Regions from separate parts of the Homo sapiens genome. Here region 1 is linked to region 2. The links come from fine-mapping of genetic effects on gene expression. Tissue or cell type: whole blood. Region 2 holds a variant in brackets; the other region holds the start of a gene. All regions are shown on one strand. Distances are from middle to middle.

Region 1 (8,071 bases), 38 kb before region 2:
TACGAGCTGCCTGGGTGTAGGATGGGGGATGGGGTCTTGGAGCAGCGCTGTGGGGGACCGCGGGCAGGGTTTGGGGGCCAGCTCTGGCCTTGGGTGAGTCCACCTCCTTGGGCCTCCCCTTTCTCCAGGGCTCCTGGCCCCTCCCAGCTCTTGGCGCCCCAGACTCTGTCCCCTCTTCCTGCCCTGGCTCCAGACTGGAGCTTGGAATCTTGGAGCTGGAAGGGATGTTGGAAGGTCGTGGCGTCCACCCCCACCCAGGGCAGACATCCTCTCCGTGGCGTCCCCTGAGGAGGGTCATCCAGAATGCAGGCCGTGTGCCGTCCAGCCCGCTCTAGACACTGGAAAGGTCCCGCTGATGGAGCTGAAACCTGTCTCTGGGTGTTCTCTGCCCAGTGGGTGTAGGTGGGGTCTCCCTGGGAGCCCCTGGATGACCGAGACTGGCTCCCCAAGATGAGTAATCTGCTCACCCTACCATTCCCCATGAGAACCCCTCTTCCCTATTTGAGCCCAAAGCTCCCTTCTGTGCCTGTTTTCCTATGGGGTGCCCAGAGTGTGTCCCACCACACCCCTCTGAGGACCCCTCCTCCAAGATCACAGAGCAGGGAAGCTGTTCCTTCTTGTTACCCCTGTACCCTGAAAACATTGAGGCTGAGCCCCAGAGCACGTTGGGTTGGGTCTGGGCCGCTTCCCGTGCACCCCCCCGGGCCGGGCTCTGTACAAGGCATACTTGGACTGCAGGAGCCCACAGAACAGCCCCCCCATTTCCCTCCCTGTGGCCGCTTTCCCTGGTCCCGGGGATGCTCTGGATCTGTCCCTGTCTAGGGGAAGCTCCATGCCCAGGACTGGCTGCCCTGTCCATGTGCGGTGGTGGCGCCAGGCCAGCATGCTGGGGACCGTCTCTCTGTGAGCTGGCCACCGTGCACACTGGGCGGCCAGGCCTGGGGAGGCTCTGAGCAGCTGCACCGGCATGTTGGCCAGGGTTTTAGAAAACAAAGTTCATTACAACACAGTACAGATTACTCGAAGACAATAGCTACGGTCCCCCCTGGGAGTGTTGTATAAGGAAAACACACGTTCATCAGCTAAAAATGCATCTACGTTGCACTGCTGAGGTGGGAACCGTTTTCCAAACCCTCTGTCAAGAATGTTAATTTTCCCAGAGCAACTTAAGCTCCATGCAAAATTACCCAGCAGATAGCTGTCTTCCAGGCAACGGGGGTAGCTTTTTCCTATCCCAGAATCTCTTCCTGAGACTCTGCTGCCCCTCAGGTTAAGCCTCTTGTAACTGCCACGGCTGGGCCAGGCTCTCCTCAGTCCTCAGCCCCACGAGCCAGTGTTGTCCAGGCCCCCGGTGTGACCCAGTCCCAGGCTGCCCACCAGCCCCTCGTGCTGTCCTCCCAGCTGGTTCAGGCCCCAAACGCCACAGACTCCTCTAGGGCCATCCTCTGTAAGGAGGAGGAGGGTCAGTGAAGGGAGGGAGCGGAGCCTGGCCCCGCCCTGCTGTGCCCAGCCCGACGCTGGCGGGGCAGACACCTGTCGGCTGCCACAAGATGGGGGCAGCGTGGCCCTCGCCTGGGGTGGGTTATTTATAAGGAGCCAGTGGCAGCTGAGGTGTCCAGAAATAGGCAAGACGTTTCTGCCCAGAAACCCAAGACGTGGGTGAGGCGGGTGTGACAGCCCAGCCCTCCTTGGCCCACAGCTGCCCCCTCACCCTCGGGCACCCAGGCCCTCCCCAGCTCCTCATATTTCCCTCCTGTCCCCCCAGGCCAGAGTCACATGGGTGCCCCAACACCCTCAGGCAGGGTGACCTCCAGGCCCCCCGACGTGCGCTGGAAAGGCCCACTCTCCAAGTGGGGAAACTGAGGCACCTGGTTTTCTGCTGAGCGCCTGGAAGCAACACAAGGCTGTTCTGTTCCCCCCAGTATGGCCTGTGTCATTGCCTCTGTTGCGGGGAGGGGCTGGTGGCAGGGGTGTGCTGGGGGCAGGGGTGTGCTGGGGGCAGGGGATGGCATTTCAACAGCTGAGACGCAAAGCAGGTGTCCAGTTAGTGCCTGCCTTGGAGGGGCTGCGTGAAAATAACCTATGCGGTCAGTTTCTTCGGGCACGTATGCATCACCTTTCCCTCCTTGGGAGGTGACGGGGCCAGGGCAGGGTGGGGAGGCAAAAGCCGCTGCCCCTTGCTTGCTGTGGCCCTGACCATGCCCCCAGACCTGTTCTCCACCCAGCCAACCTTTGCTTTGCCCCATGTCCCTCCGTGGACTTCAGGAGGGGCAGCCAAGGCCTGATCAGACGGCACAAGTCAGGGGGACCGTGTCCAGGGCAGGGAGGGTGGGTGGGGGCTCTTACGAGCGCCAGCTTCTCCAGCCTCCAGCCAGGGGGACGCGATGAAGCCCAGCCCCTCACTCTTGCCCCGTCCTGCCCCAGTCCAGCCCCTGTCCACTTCTGTCCTGCACCTCCAGACGCTGGCCCCCAAGGCTGCGTGGGCTTTAGACGCCCCCACCCCAACACACTCGGGCTGGCCATACAGGAGCCCCTGCCCTCCTGTCCTCGTTTTCATCTCTACAAAATGGCGGTGTTGGAGGCCCAGGTGCGAGAGCTGCATGGCAAGGCCAGGACGGGCCTGGGCAAATGTCTGCATGGCGACCACAAGCTGGCAACCTAAGCCCTGGCAGCACCCCTGCACAGCCTCTTCCCTGCCGCTCACAGCCCGCACCTCTCTGCCTCCTGCCCTCAGGCCACTCCCTAGCACTGAGCTTCCCTGAGCCCCGACTTGCCCCCTCCTGGCCTCCCACACTCTGCCTTCTTCTGCATCCTCCCGGTGCTGAGACCATCACACCACCATGTCCGCATCCCAGACTCTCCGGACGCTGGAGCAGCCACCTGGGGGCTCCGAGCCATGATGCTTCGAGATGCTCGGCACCACACGGACCTGGGACCTCAGCGCCCCAGGACCCCAGAGTGTCCCTGGAACGAGGGGCTGTCCACCCGCACGCAGGAGGCCCCGTCGGCCCCAGTCCTGGGTGGCCGCTCCTGCCTATACCCACCTGCGGGTCGAGTGTGAGAAGGGCTGGAGCTCCCTGTGGACAGCACCGGCTGCAGGCACTGGCGCCCGGCTCACACCCTCGTGTTATAGTGACATTTGATCTTCCTAGGAGCCCATTGGCCAGTGACTGGGTGGCCGGGGTGTGTGCGGAGTCTTGCTGGGGGGGGCTATGCCCGTGCAGGCCCCTTACCAAGTATAGGAATGGCCAGAGGAGGAGGCTGAAGGAGGCCAGGATGCAGAGGACGTGCTTGGAGAAGGAGGCAAGGTCCTCCCTCCGCCTCCAGGAGGTGTCAGCTGCTATTTTTACTCCCAGCAGCGGGTACATTCTGGATGGGCTGAGGAGGGAGGAGGAAGGTGTTGGGTGGCCCCGGGGCACCAAGCCGAGGCTCTCTTTGGGCCAAACTAGTGTGGGGGTCCCCAGAGCCAGGCTGCCGGGTTTCCCACCCCCCCGCCCCTTCTCTCTGAGATGTTCTGTGGGAGTAAACATTTGTCCAGGAAAAGGGTCCGCACAGCCGGGGTCCCCTCCCGCCGCCCGGCCCAATGCCCCAGGCCCTTCGCTGTCTCCCCCGGGGAGGAAGCAGCCTGAGGCCTCGGAGACCCCCCATGGAACTGAGGCCAGGCCCCCACCCTATCTGAGACCCTCTTAGAGGCCAGCTCTGCTTTCCTGGCTAGACACCGTTGGGGCCTACACAATAAGCGGGCGAGGGACATGGCCAGGCTGGCTGCAGTCCGAGTCTGCCATACCTCCCCCCGGGGCTGCTGCCATTGCAGGGGGCTACACATGGAGTTTGCTGGGTAAGGGTCTGGGTCCTCCCTCTAGGCCCTTTCTAACCCTGGGGCCCCACCCTGGGCACTCGCAGTGGCCGTTACCATCTGTGCCAGCATCTCCCACAGGCTCATTGTGGCGTGTGGAGACTGGTTTTCTTTCCTCAGGACTCCAGGTGGCACCGTCCGACTAGCAGACATCCTTCCTGGCCTCTGATGGCCTGTATGCTGGCCAGTGAGGCCACCAGATTGGATAACCCTGCCTCTTGGATCAGGGAAACTGAGGCACCAGGTGGGGGAGAGCAGTCTGGCACCCTGACCCACCCCCTCACTCCCCTCAGACCCCACAGGCTGAGCGTGGGCGGTGGTGTCTGCGGAACTCTTCGGTTCAGGCACAGATTGGTTCCTTCTTGGCCAGCGCCCAGGACAGGGGTGAGTCCCGAGAGGCACAGATGAGGTCCCTGTCCTCCCCAGGCTTAGAGTCAGGGACAACAGGATAACCCGGCAGGGGCTCACAGTGCCCTGGGGCCGGGTCGGGGGCCTTCCGGAAGGCTGTGGTTGGCACCTCATTCCACCCCTCCATGGAAGAGCGAGGCCGCAGAGCCCAGGGACAGGCAAGGTGTGCCTGGGGTCACACGACAAGGCGGGCTGGCCCCAGGCTGCCATTTCAAAGGACAGGGCCGGTCCCCTGCCTGCCTCCCGCTGAGTGCCCGGCACTGGGAAGGCTCTTGGAGCTGGGGTTGCTGGGAACGTCGCCGTCCTCCTGCTCTGGGTCTGTGGCTTCGTCTGCATTCCACGCCTTCCCCTCCCTGTCCATGTCCTCGATGGGCAAGGCTTTGGGGGCCACAAACAGCCCTGGCCCCTGGATATCTGTGACCAGCTTCCTGCCCACTGGGGACATCTGCAGAACTGCTCCCTCAGAGGCACGTGAGCGGGTCCCTGGGGGTCAGCGGGCCCACCCCATCCTCTCCCATGGTGGGGCCAACCTCCTTTTCCAGGCTCGCTCTGCCGGCTTCTCTAACGGAGCCCTGAGCCCACCATTCTGGTTACACGTGGTTCAGTCTGCAGGCCTAGGAAGCCTGTGCCCACCCAAGCCCTCACCCAGGCCAGGGGTCCTGAGGGGCGCACCTGAAGGTGGGTGTGCCATAACCCTGCACTGGCCCCGTGTGGCCAGCAGGGGAAGGTGCTGCCCGCCCAGCTCCTGGAGCTTTGGCAGGCGCTCTCCGCCCAGCCAGCTGAGGTCAGAGGGATAGGGCAGGTTTTATTTTGGGTATCGGCGACCTCCCCCTCGGGCGCTGGGCCTGAGGCGTAGCAGGGACTGCACAGAGCAGGCACCAGCGGCCTCGAGGGCCTGCACCAGGTAACCCATGCCCTGCTGCCATCTGGCCGGACCGGGATGGTCCAAGGAGAGGAGGCAGGGCAGGGGCCTCCTGGGGGACTGTAGACCTGGGTGGGGGCAGGGCACAAGGGAGGCCCAGCCTGGGTTGGGGACGCATTTCCACCCAGGAGGAGTCTGAGGACGGACCACGGGGCCTTGGCTCTAGGGCAGTTGTTGGGGGATGGGGGGGTTCTGAAATTGGCAAATGCTGAGCCAAGCCCAGGGAGTGGGGAGCAGGCTGTGGGAGGGAGGATGGCCTCCTGAGTGTCTTGGCTGCAGCTCCCTGCCTGGGTGGCCCCCAGATGGTGGCCGGGGCCCCTCAATCTAGGTCCCAGCACCCAGTGCGCATGGTTGGGGGTGGTGGAGACCAAGAGGGTCCTGAGCCTCTCCTCATGCCCTGAGCTGACCTGAGCCCCCAGGCTGGATCCAGCCTGAGGCCGCTCGGCCCAGCTGTGGGCTCAATCACTGCCAGGCCCAGGACAGGAGCAGCTGACACAGCACTTGGGAACTGAGCTGCTCCAGCCCTAGGTAGCTGCCTCCCCACATGCCTAGTGCTTCTGATTTTGCAGTTTCATTGACTCGTTCTGCAGATATGATGGGTGTCTTCTCTGTGGCTGGCCTAGGGGCTTGTAGCAAGGGTCACAGGGTGTCTGGTGGCTGCTCTGGCAGGCAGGACAGAGGCTAGGGGCTTCATCTGCCATCCCTGGCCAGGGGCCTCTTAGGCTGCAGGCCTTTTGAGCCTCCTGACCTCCGCATTGGGCATGGCCTGACCTCCAGGTTTCCAGGAGCAGGGGCATGGGGTTGCTGTGGCCGTGGACGGGAGGCTGCATCAGAAACACAGCAGGGCTGTGGCTGGGTAGAGCTCAGAGGGACAGGCCCTGGGTCCTTGTTCTCGAGGCTGAGCCGAGGGGTGCAGATGATCTGACAAGGGGCCAGGGCTGGTCGGGGGCGGGGTGGGCAGTGGCTGCCTCCTCAGCACTGCTGACCCCAACTACCCCCTGCCCCTGGTGCTGTCCACTCTGCACCCCAGTGCTGAGTGCCCAACTGTGGCCTTTGGGCCTGCCTCTCGGCTGCCCTTGGTCACCGTCCCAAGCGGATCAGGTGGGAAACAAGGGGAGTGCTGTCACTGGGTGGTTCCCCAGCTGGGGAGGGTGGCCTGGATCCTCTCTCAGTGGCTGGGGCATCTGAGAAAGGATGGGGGCACGTCACCTCCCTTGTGTGGGTGGTGGCTCTGTCGAGGTTTTGCTTTTCTGAACTGTGTGTATTCATGAGGCAAGCAGGGTTTGACATGAAGCCTTCAGAAAATAGTGGCTGTGAGGACCCAAGGGAATGGCAAAGTGAAGTCCAGAACATCAGAGTCTGGGGTGCTGCTCCTCGAAGGGACTTCCCAGACGCTGAAGGCTGCAGGGCTGAGTGTCAGGGCCCAGTGCAAGACCTGGGAGAGGAGGGACAGGAGGGAGGGTGTCCCCAGGCTGTCTGCTATTTCACACAGTTGTCCATTCATCCACCCATCTATTCATTCCCATGCATTCACTCTCACCTTCACCACTTCCTTTCCTTCCTTCCTCCCTCCTTCTCTTCCATCATCCATCCCTCCGTCTGTCCATCCTTTCAACCACCCATACAATCACCTACCCATCCACTCATCCCTCCATTTCATCTATCCCTCCCGCCATCCATCCATCCATCCATCATTAGTCTATCCATCCATTCATCCACCCACCTATCCATCTATCTACCCATCCATCTACCTGTCTATCCATCCATCCATCCATCTCTTCATCTATCCATCTACCCATTCATGCATCCATCCATCCCTCCCTCCCTCCCTTCATCCACCCTCCCTTCATCCATCCATCCCTCCCTCCATCCATCCATCCACACATCCACTCATCACCCCAACACACACACCTCCCCACAACACACACACACACAGAAACATCACCCCCCCAAAACACACACACATAACATCACCCCCCACAACACACACACACAGAAACATCACCCCGCACACACACACATACAAATAATATCCCCCCCAACACATGCACACACAGAAACATCACCCCCCACAACACACACACACACAGAAACATCCCAGGTGTGTGACCCCACAACACACACAAAGAAACATCATCTGAGGTGTGTGACCCCACAACACATACACACACACGCAGAAACATCATCCCAGGTGCGTGACCGCACAACATACACACACAGACACACACACACAGAAACATCATCCCACGTGTGTGACCCCACAACACACAGACACACACATACAGAAACATCATCTCAGATGTCCTATCCCACAACACACACACAGAGAATAACATCATCCCCAGGGATGTGATCCCAGAACACACACACATAGCAATATCATCCCTAAGTGTGTACACCCCACAAGACACACACACACACAGAGAAACATCATCCCAGTTGTGTGGCCCCAGAACACACACACACACACACACACACACAGAAACATCATCCCAGGTGTGTGACCCCACAAAACACACAGACACAGAGAAACATCCCAGGTGTGTGACCCCATAACACATACACACACACACTCACAAACATCATCCGTGTGTCCCCACAACACACACACAGAGAAATATCATCCCCAGGTTTGTACACCCAACACACACATACACAAACATCATCCCCAGGTGTGTGACCTCACAACACACACACAGACACACACAGAGCAACATCATCCCAGGTGTGTGACCTCACAACACACACACACACACACACACACACAGAAACATCTCCAGGTTTGTACACCCACAACACACACAGAGCAACATCTCCCCAGGTGTGTACACCCCACAACCCACACACACAAAGACACAGAAACATCCCAGGTGTGTGACCCCACA
Region 2 (8,071 bases):
CCCATGTCTCCCACAAGGCTTCTCCCAACCTGCCCAAGCCTCTCCCAGAGCCCCCCTCGGTCTCCAGATCTCTACCTTGTGACTCCCTTCAACCCCCACTTGGTTAAACCTAAGATCTGAGCCCAGAAAGCAGACAGACAGACAGACAGACCTCTTCTCTATGGAGCGGTTTAGGGACTCGGTCCTGTCGATGAGCTGCAGAGGGTGGAGAGAGACACAGGCCTGCAGCAGCCGAGGTAAAGCCCACCCTCCATCTCCCCAGCTACTCCAACCACTAATCCAACCCCCAACCCTTATATCATGGGGGTTCGCTGAGCACCGGGCAATGGGGGGATAGCAGACAAAAGCCAGGCCTGGGCCTGGTCTTCCTGTGGCTGGCATGTGGGATTGGCCTTTTGGGTATGAGTACGGGAGAGGGGAGAAGATGGCAGGCTTTGCAGCTTAACTTACTTTGGTGGTAGGGCTCAGGGGAGGCGAGCTCTGTTCGATGGTCCCCTCCAAGACCAAGGGGCTGGGTGTCCTGGGCTGCTGACATTTCTGGTGCTAGAAAAAAAAAAACAGACATCCCAAGTGACCCCCTGCTTGTGCCCCTCCTGCCCTGCCCAGCACCTGTGGGAACAAATGCTGTTCCTTCCTGAGCCCCAGGTTCTCTGTGGCCCTGACGTGCTCCAGTTCTGGAGCTGGTGGGGAGGGACTGAGGAGTCTGGAGAGATGTCTCCGGATCTTGCAAGAGGATCACTGAGCCTTGCCCTCTCTGAGAATGTGGGCCCAGAAGGGGCTGCAAGGTCTAGGGGTGTGGGGTGCTGACCCACTCTGGGCTAGACCCACAGGGCCCACAGAGTGGTGCAGACAGCCAAGGCAGACTCATCCCTGGGGTGGGGGTACACCCAGACCCTCTGAGGTGGAGCCATCACCTCCTCCTGTTCCTCCTCAGCCCCTGCGGCCCCCAGGTTGTCCTGGACAGTGTCCTCTGGGCCTGGCCCCTCCTTGCTCAGACTCAACTCCTCCAGGTGGACTTCATCACTGTCCTCCTTTTCGTAGGCATGCAGGCCGGGCCTGTGGGTGGAAAGGGAGGCAAAGCCGTTCTAGGGCCATTGGATTGCTTGGTTGACCCCTTCCTTTTTCCAAGCCTCAGTTTCCCCATCTGTAAAATGAAGGTAGTCAGGCTACTTGAGTGCCAAGGGATCTGAGACCCAAGCCCATTGGGAAAGAAGGTCCAGTGGCCTCAGAGCCAGCGCAGTCTGCTTGGGCCCCTGTGTCAGGGCCTGAGGCCCCTGGGGAACTGCCCAGTCCCTGCCAGACAGGGCTCTACAGACTGAGGGTCCCCCAGGCACTGAGGCTGGGTTCAATCCCCAGCTTTGTGGCTGGGCCTCAGCTTGGCAGCTGCTTGCACACCCGGTTGGTCTGACGGGGTCCCCGCGAGGCCGGGCTGCTGGGGCCACCACTCCTGCTCTGCTCCCTGTGGGGGCCCTTGGGTGTTTGGGGGACTGGAGGCTGGGTCATTTGGAGGGCTAGGCAGGGGTAGGGGCCAGGTCACTGAGGAGCAGGGCCAAGGGGCTGCCGGCTGCGGGGGAGGGGAGGCCAGCCAGCTGGCAGCTTTGAGCGGCTCTGCATTTGAGCAGGACTGAACCTGGAGGAGAAGATGGGAAATTCTCGAATTTTCCATGATTTCAGGCCCCTGGGTGTGCGTGCCAGCCAAGACCCAGACCCACCCGCCCAAGGTGGGCAGGGGTCTGAGCCAGCAGCAGCCACACAGAGGGGCCATTCAGGAGCAGGTCTGTGCAGCCAGGCAGGTGCAGGGGGTGGGGTGGCGGCCGCAGAGCTGGGCTCCACGGAAGAGTCAAAGCGCCCCCTGCTGGTGGGAGCAGCCTCGCCCGCCTAGGCCTGAGGCCAAGGGAGAAGGGAGCTGCCCCATCTCAGAAAAGCAGAGCCGCTGACTCCCAAGCACGTAGGGGGGAGACTGAGGCCCAGGGAGGGGGGCGGTGGGCACTGCGCCAGGCCAGGACCAGTGGTTCTTGGGGAGTGGGAGCCTGGTTGTAGGAGGACAAGGGAGCGTCGCTCAGCAACACTGGTCCCTAGAGCTCCAGGCTGGTTTAGGGCCTCAGAGGGGCCAGGAAGGACCCTGACCAGGGAGAACTGTCAGCCCAGCCATGGGCTCTGGTCCCACTCAAGGCAAGGGGGTCCTGAGCAGGGCTGGGGTCCCAGATGGCCCAGGCCCTGCAGGGCGGGTGGGGTCAGCCCCATCATGGCCACAGATGACTGAGAGCGGCAAGGACCCCGAGCAGGGGTAGTGAAGTGGGGCTCGGGAGCAGCCCCTGTTGGGCCTGTTGGGGTTGAGACAGGCACACACATCCCCACATCTGGAAAGTGCGTCCTCCCGGCCGACTCTCCGGCATGCACATCTGGAAATACCTGCTCCCCTCCGTGGGAATGGAGATCAGCCAGCCCCGAGGGAGGAAGGGGCGGCGGCGGGCTCTCAGCCTCCATTACGGAAGCGGCCGCAGCTGTGTGCTGATGTGGCAGCACCCGGCCTGGCCTCGCAGCTGCCTGGATGGGGCCCAGGGGCCCTGGGGAGCCCCAGAATGAGGTTTCCTCGCGGCCCCTCGCCGGCCACCATGCTGTCTCGCCCTCTTCCTCCCTCCCCTCCTGTCTCCCCCTTTCCTGGCCATGGGGGCATTTCAGGCTCTGCTTGGAAAGGGGAGGATGGGGTGGCTGCTCAGGCGCAGGTTGAGGGCCTGAAGGGAGCTCCGCGGTGCCCTGCTCTGCCCAGCGCCCGCCCTCGAGGTCCAGAGGGAGCCCTGCTCTGCCCAGCGCCCGCCCTCGAGGTCCAGAGGGAGCCCTGCTCTGCCCAGCGCCCGCCCTCGAGGCCCTCACTCACCTGTCCTCTTGCTCCCCCTCAGGACTCCTGCACTGGGGGGGCTCTCCGCTGTCCAAGGCGCCCTGCGCCCCCTCGTGCTGCTGCCGCTGCTCTGGCCTCTGGGACCAGTCGCCAAAGCCCTCGTCCTCATCCAGTTCAGGGGCCTCCGAGGGCTTCAGGCTGAGGCTGAGGGTAGCAGGGGGGAGCTTAGGCCTGGGCGGCTGCTGCCTCCTCTGCCCAGGGCCCACACTCACCTCACGGCGCCCGCTCAGGCCCTGGACTCCAAGTGTGGGAGACCCTGTCTGCCACAGAGCTGGCTCTGGGCTGTGTCTCCTGTGGTCAGAATACCTGAGGGCAGGGCT[A/G]TGCCTCCCCCGTCAGTTCTGGGGCAGCCTGAGAACTGTGCTTCCTCCATCAGTCCAGGACTCCTTGAGGCTCAGCAGGGCTATGCCTCCTCCATCAGCCTGGGGCTACCTGAGGGCAGGGCTATGCCTCCCTCATCAGTTTGGGGCTCCCTGAGGGTAAGGCTGTGCCTCTTCGATCAGTGTAGGGCTCCCTGAGGACAGGGCTGTGCCTCCCCTGTCAGCCTGTGGCTCCCTAAGAGCAGGGCTGTGCCTCCCCCATCACTCTGGGACTCGCTAGGGCAGGGCTGGGCCTCCCCCGTCAGCCTGTGGCTCCCTAACAGCAGGGCTGTGCTTCCCCCATCAGTCTGGGGCTCCCTAGGGCAGGGCTGTGCCTCCCCCATCATCCTGGGGCTCCCCAAGGGCTGCCCTGGTCCCCACATGAGGACCCTACATGAGGTCCTCCTAAGCCCCGACTTCTCAGGCCTCCCATGTGGCAGGGGGAGCCCCTGGATAGCTGGGGCCCTTGGTGGGGGTGGCCAAGGGCCTGACTATGGTGACCGCTGAACCCCACTCTGCCCAAGGCTGCTGACTTGGAGAAAATGGAACAAAAGAGGCCAGAAGGAAGGGAAGCATTATTGGAAAAACAGCCCAGCCCAGCCGCGGAGGCCTCCTGGGCCCAAGGAGGAAGCAAGCCAGCCTGGCCGCCAAGTTGGACGTGGCTCTGTGAGTCACTGGCGGGGGAGTCTGGTGGGGGGCTCGGCCAGGCTGCGTGGCTGGGGTCAGAGGCGGTCCGAGCAAGGGCCAGGGCACGGACACAGAGCCTGGGTCAGCGCCCAGGAGGCAGCCAGGTATTGGCAGACCCTCCTCTAGGGCTGTGGCCACCCTCGCCCCAGGAGCACTCACCCACTCCCACGCCTGCTCCTGGGGGCCCTTCCTCGCTCTCATCCTGCACTGGAACCCCCAAGCCCAGGCCCTTGACCTCCCCCTCTGCCCAGGCCCCAGGGTACACGGATAGGGGCTAGAGCCCAGGCACGCGTTATGGGGCTGCTCACAGCATCTCCTGCTTCGGCCGCTCGGGGACATGGCCGCCTCCCTCCTCGTCCTGGGCCTGAAGCTGCCTGTCTCTCTCATGCTGGCATTGCTCGTGGACGGCCTCCTCCTCGTCCTCCACGCTCCACTGAGCAGTGGGCCTAGTGGGGGACACAGAGGGACAGTCACGCCACAGCCGACACAGGTGCTGTTTTGCACCCATTCCTCCCATCTACACAGGCCTTGCTGGGGCCACACGGTGCAGGCAGCCCTGTCCACGAGGTCAGTCCCAGGCCGGCCCTCAGGCCTCACCTTGTCCATCTTTAAATAGAGGCTGCCCACGTGGTCATGAGGTGCCCTCTGGCCCAGGCGAGGGTCCTGGGGCCCTGTGAGGATCTGGGCACCCCTGTGCCCTGTGGGGATGAAGGTGGGACTCCAAGGCCCATTCAAGCCTGAAGAAACTCAAGGACAGGACAAAAGGCCCTCTGTCCCCCTCTCCCAGCCTGCCTCCCTCCCTAAGTAGAACCAGGACCTAGACCCAGGTGACCCTGGAGGGCCCAGGAAGAAGATACTGGAGTCCAGGGAGACTGGCCGCAGCCCACCGCCAGGCGGCACCTCCACCCCACCTGCGGGTGCTCCCTCCTGCACCCCAAAGGCAGGGCGTGTTGGAGAAAGGGGAGGTCGAAGGCTGAGGAAAGGAGGGCCTGAGCACGTCCAGGCAGGACACCTCCTGTCCCACCACCAGCCCCGCTCACAGAAGCTCCGCAGACTCATGGGTCCTGCCTGGGCCTAACCCCATAGCTGGGGGCACCTTACAGGGTCGGCTCACCCAACCCCACCCCATCCTTATTTCAGAGCCCTCTGCGGAGTCTCTCTGAGCTGTTTCTTTTGTTTGTTTGTTTGAGACGGAGTTTCACTCTTGTTGCCCAGGCTGGAGTGCAATGGTGTGATCTGGGCTCACCACAACCTCCGCCTCCTGGGTTCAAGCGATTCTCCTGCCTCAGCCTCCTGAGTAGCTGGGATTACAGGCATGCACCACCATACCCGGCTAATTTTGTATTTTTTAGTAGAGACAGGGTTTCTCCATGTTGGTCAGGCTGGTCCTGAACTCCCGACCTCAGGTGATCCGCCCGCCTCAGCCTCCCAAGGTGGTGGGATTACAGGGATGAGCCACCGCACCCAGCCGATTGAGCCATTTCAAAAATGGGGAAACTGAGGTAAGGGAGTGCTTCTGCCCTCAGAGCCTGAAACCATGGCTTCTTGGGGTCCCACGCGCCCCCCTCAGGGACAGAGGTAGGCACAGGCTGGCCTGGACCTGGGCATCAGAGCCCCGGCCCAGCAGCTCTCAGATGGTCCAGGTCCTGCAGACACCGCAGCCTCAGCTGTCATGGCCCTGCCTCCCATCGCCCTCCTAGAGCCTGAGAGGGGGTCCAGGGTCTCTACACTCCTACAGGGCTTATTATCCCAGACCCAGGGAGGGAGCCCAGGCCAGAACAGGGAGCAGGGCTGGGGTCTCCCCACTGGGGTCTCAGTTCTTCCCGGCCAGTGGCCGCTGCCTGACCCTGCAGCCTGATCCCCACTGGGCCCCAGTCCCCTGGCCAGACAGCCCTGCCAGCGCGTGATCTAATCTCTCCTAGGTCTCCCCTAAGCCTCTCAGACAAAAGCCAGGCCCTTCCACAGGCCCGAGTTCAAGGCCCACTCCCCCCACCGAAGCCACAGGGGACTCCAGCCACGCAAACCCAGCCGCCTGTGCACCCCGCCCCCCGCGCCCCCGAATCCGCCTGCCTGTCCTGCTCCTCAGAAGTGCCTTCAACTCCCGGCCCCCGAGGAAGCCACTTAATTCCCCACACCTGGCTCCCATCATCCGGGCAGATGAGGCCCAGCTTCCCGCTTCTGCCGGCCTCCGCATGGCTGGGGGCTGCTGGGCCTTGTTCCACCTGAGGAGGCAGAGCCTGGGGCGCAGGGGCCCTCGTGCTCACTCACGCCCCAGCCCCTCCACACAGAGGGCGGCGCAGGCTGGGGCAGAGTGTTGAGGAGGTGGAGGGGTTCCATGGAGGGGAAGCCTGGCCATATTGCTCCCCGTGTTCCCATGTCCCAGCCCCTCCATGTGAGCAAGGGCTTAGCTGGGGTGTGTGTCCCTGGGCCTGGGGCATGAGAGGGAGCCCATGCTCCTCCTTGGACCTGGGCTTCCGATGGGTCCAGGGCCCTCACTCCAGCTCCACAGACCCCCTCCACCAAGCCATAGGGGAGGCGGGGCTTGGAAGTACACATTGGCGCAGAGACCCCAGAAGCTCGTGTGCACACGTTTCCTCAGGTCCACCCCTATGGGCAAGCAGTCCGGGCCCCAACAGCCCCACAAAGGCCCTCACTCTGCTCACAGCTCATGCCCAACACATGGAGTGCGGCCGGGCGCAGGACTCCCTAGGCCTGGGGCACACGCAGGTGCACACCCAACTCACACACGTTCTCCACGAGCCCACGCTCCAGCCACACAGGCATACATGCCCGCACCCCATGCACATACAAGTATGCACGTGCTCACACACGGGAACCTTTGACATCCACGTGCGTGTGCAGACAGGCTTGGGAACAAGGGGACCACGTCCCCCTCCAGGGATCCCTTCAGGGTGCCGCAGCCTCACTTTAGTGAGGCAAACGTTGACTGTTTGCCTTGCCATTGCCCCGACAACGGCGGTGCCGGCCCTGGCACGAGGCCCAGGTGTGTACTCTGGGAACATCGTCCCTGCAGAGCTGGGCCCCTGGAGGATCACTCCGACTGAGCTCTCCCTGGCTAGGGGCCTGGGGGACAGAGTAGGGGATGCAGAGTAAGCATCTCCTGGTGTCTCCCCTAAAACCCAGTGCTGGGGAGAAGCCCGGCCAGCCCCTGGCCTCTGACCCAGCAGCCTGAGGACGTGGAGGCCTCTGGGCCCCTTCTACGTCTCCTCCCTTTCCCCTACCCCAGGATATGAGTCATGCGGGCCCCCTCCCCATGACCTCACCCCCTCACTATTCCACAGCTGGGCTCCGTTCTGGGAACTGAAAGGGGGGCAGCTCTCCTGGGGTGGGGTGGGGGCCTCTGGCCTGGGAAAGGCGCCCCCCGGCCAGCGGCCCAGGCCCCTTGGCATGCACCACGGAGCTGTCAGGACTCTGGGATGGCCGACCCCGCCCGTGGCCCTGGCTCAGCCCCGTGCAGCTGCGAGGGATTTGGTGTTCCTGCACAAATGCAATTAGGCGATTTCCTGTGTCTGTTCTGGCTCCGAAGCCCAAGGTTCAGCCCAAGGGGCCAGGCGGTGGGGGGGCTCCATCCACCTCCCACCCCAGCACACCCCCGCACCCTCACAGTCCCAGGCTCCACTTCGGGGCCTGGCCCCCAGCCAGGGACACCAGTATGCACAGAACTCTGACGGATGCCTCGTTCGGAGTGGAGCTCCCCAAGCTCAGGTCTGTTCCTGCCGGCCTCATCCACTGCCAAGCACCCCCCGACTCGGGACGCTGGCCCTTCTTCTCCTTCCTCCACAAACCCCCACCCCCACTTCTACCTCCCAGTCCCCGCTGAGGGCCTGACAATGCCCATCCTCGGCCCAGCACTCCCAGCTACCCACCTCCGTCCTCCCCCTGCAGACACTTGCAGAATGGGTGTCCGGCTCGGTCCCCGTCCCGACTCTGCCCCCTGCAGGCAGCTCCTGTGGCTGCCCCACCCGGCTGTCCTGAGCCCAGAGGGCGGCTGGAGAGGGTCCGTCCTCTCTGGGGTCCTGGGGAGTGAGGAGGCTCTGGTGAAGAGCAAGGGCTGCGGGGAGGATGTCGAGGGGAGGGGGAGCTTCTCCTCCAGGCCTGACCACAGGTC

Evidence for each region. PIP is the estimated chance that this variant, and not a neighbour inherited with it, causes the effect.
Region 1: it holds the start of TNNT3, and the variant in region 2 is fine-mapped to the expression of TNNT3 in whole blood (Lepik 2017, PIP 0.95).

Annotation. Positions count from the first base shown.
Region 1 is chr11:1,914,736-1,922,806 of GRCh38, reverse strand. It overlaps TNNT3 (troponin T3, fast skeletal type), which reads right to left and starts at 3,104. Exons shown (of 16, transcript NM_006757.4): 1 at 3,045-3,104. It also overlaps a transcript of PRR33 not described here. RefSeq lists an enhancer at 5,737-5,786 and a silencer at 6,337-6,386.
Region 2 is chr11:1,876,404-1,884,474 of GRCh38, reverse strand. It overlaps LSP1 (lymphocyte specific protein 1), which reads right to left. Exons shown (of 11, transcript NM_002339.3): 2 at 4,251-4,388; 3 at 2,879-3,043; 4 at 915-1,056; 5 at 451-543; 6 at 152-195. MIR7847 (microRNA 7847) reads right to left here and starts at 4,430; the gene lies at 4,328-4,430. RefSeq lists enhancers at 2,246-2,455, 7,135-8,031, 8,032-8,071. The variant A/G (reference allele first, on the strand shown) is at 3,220.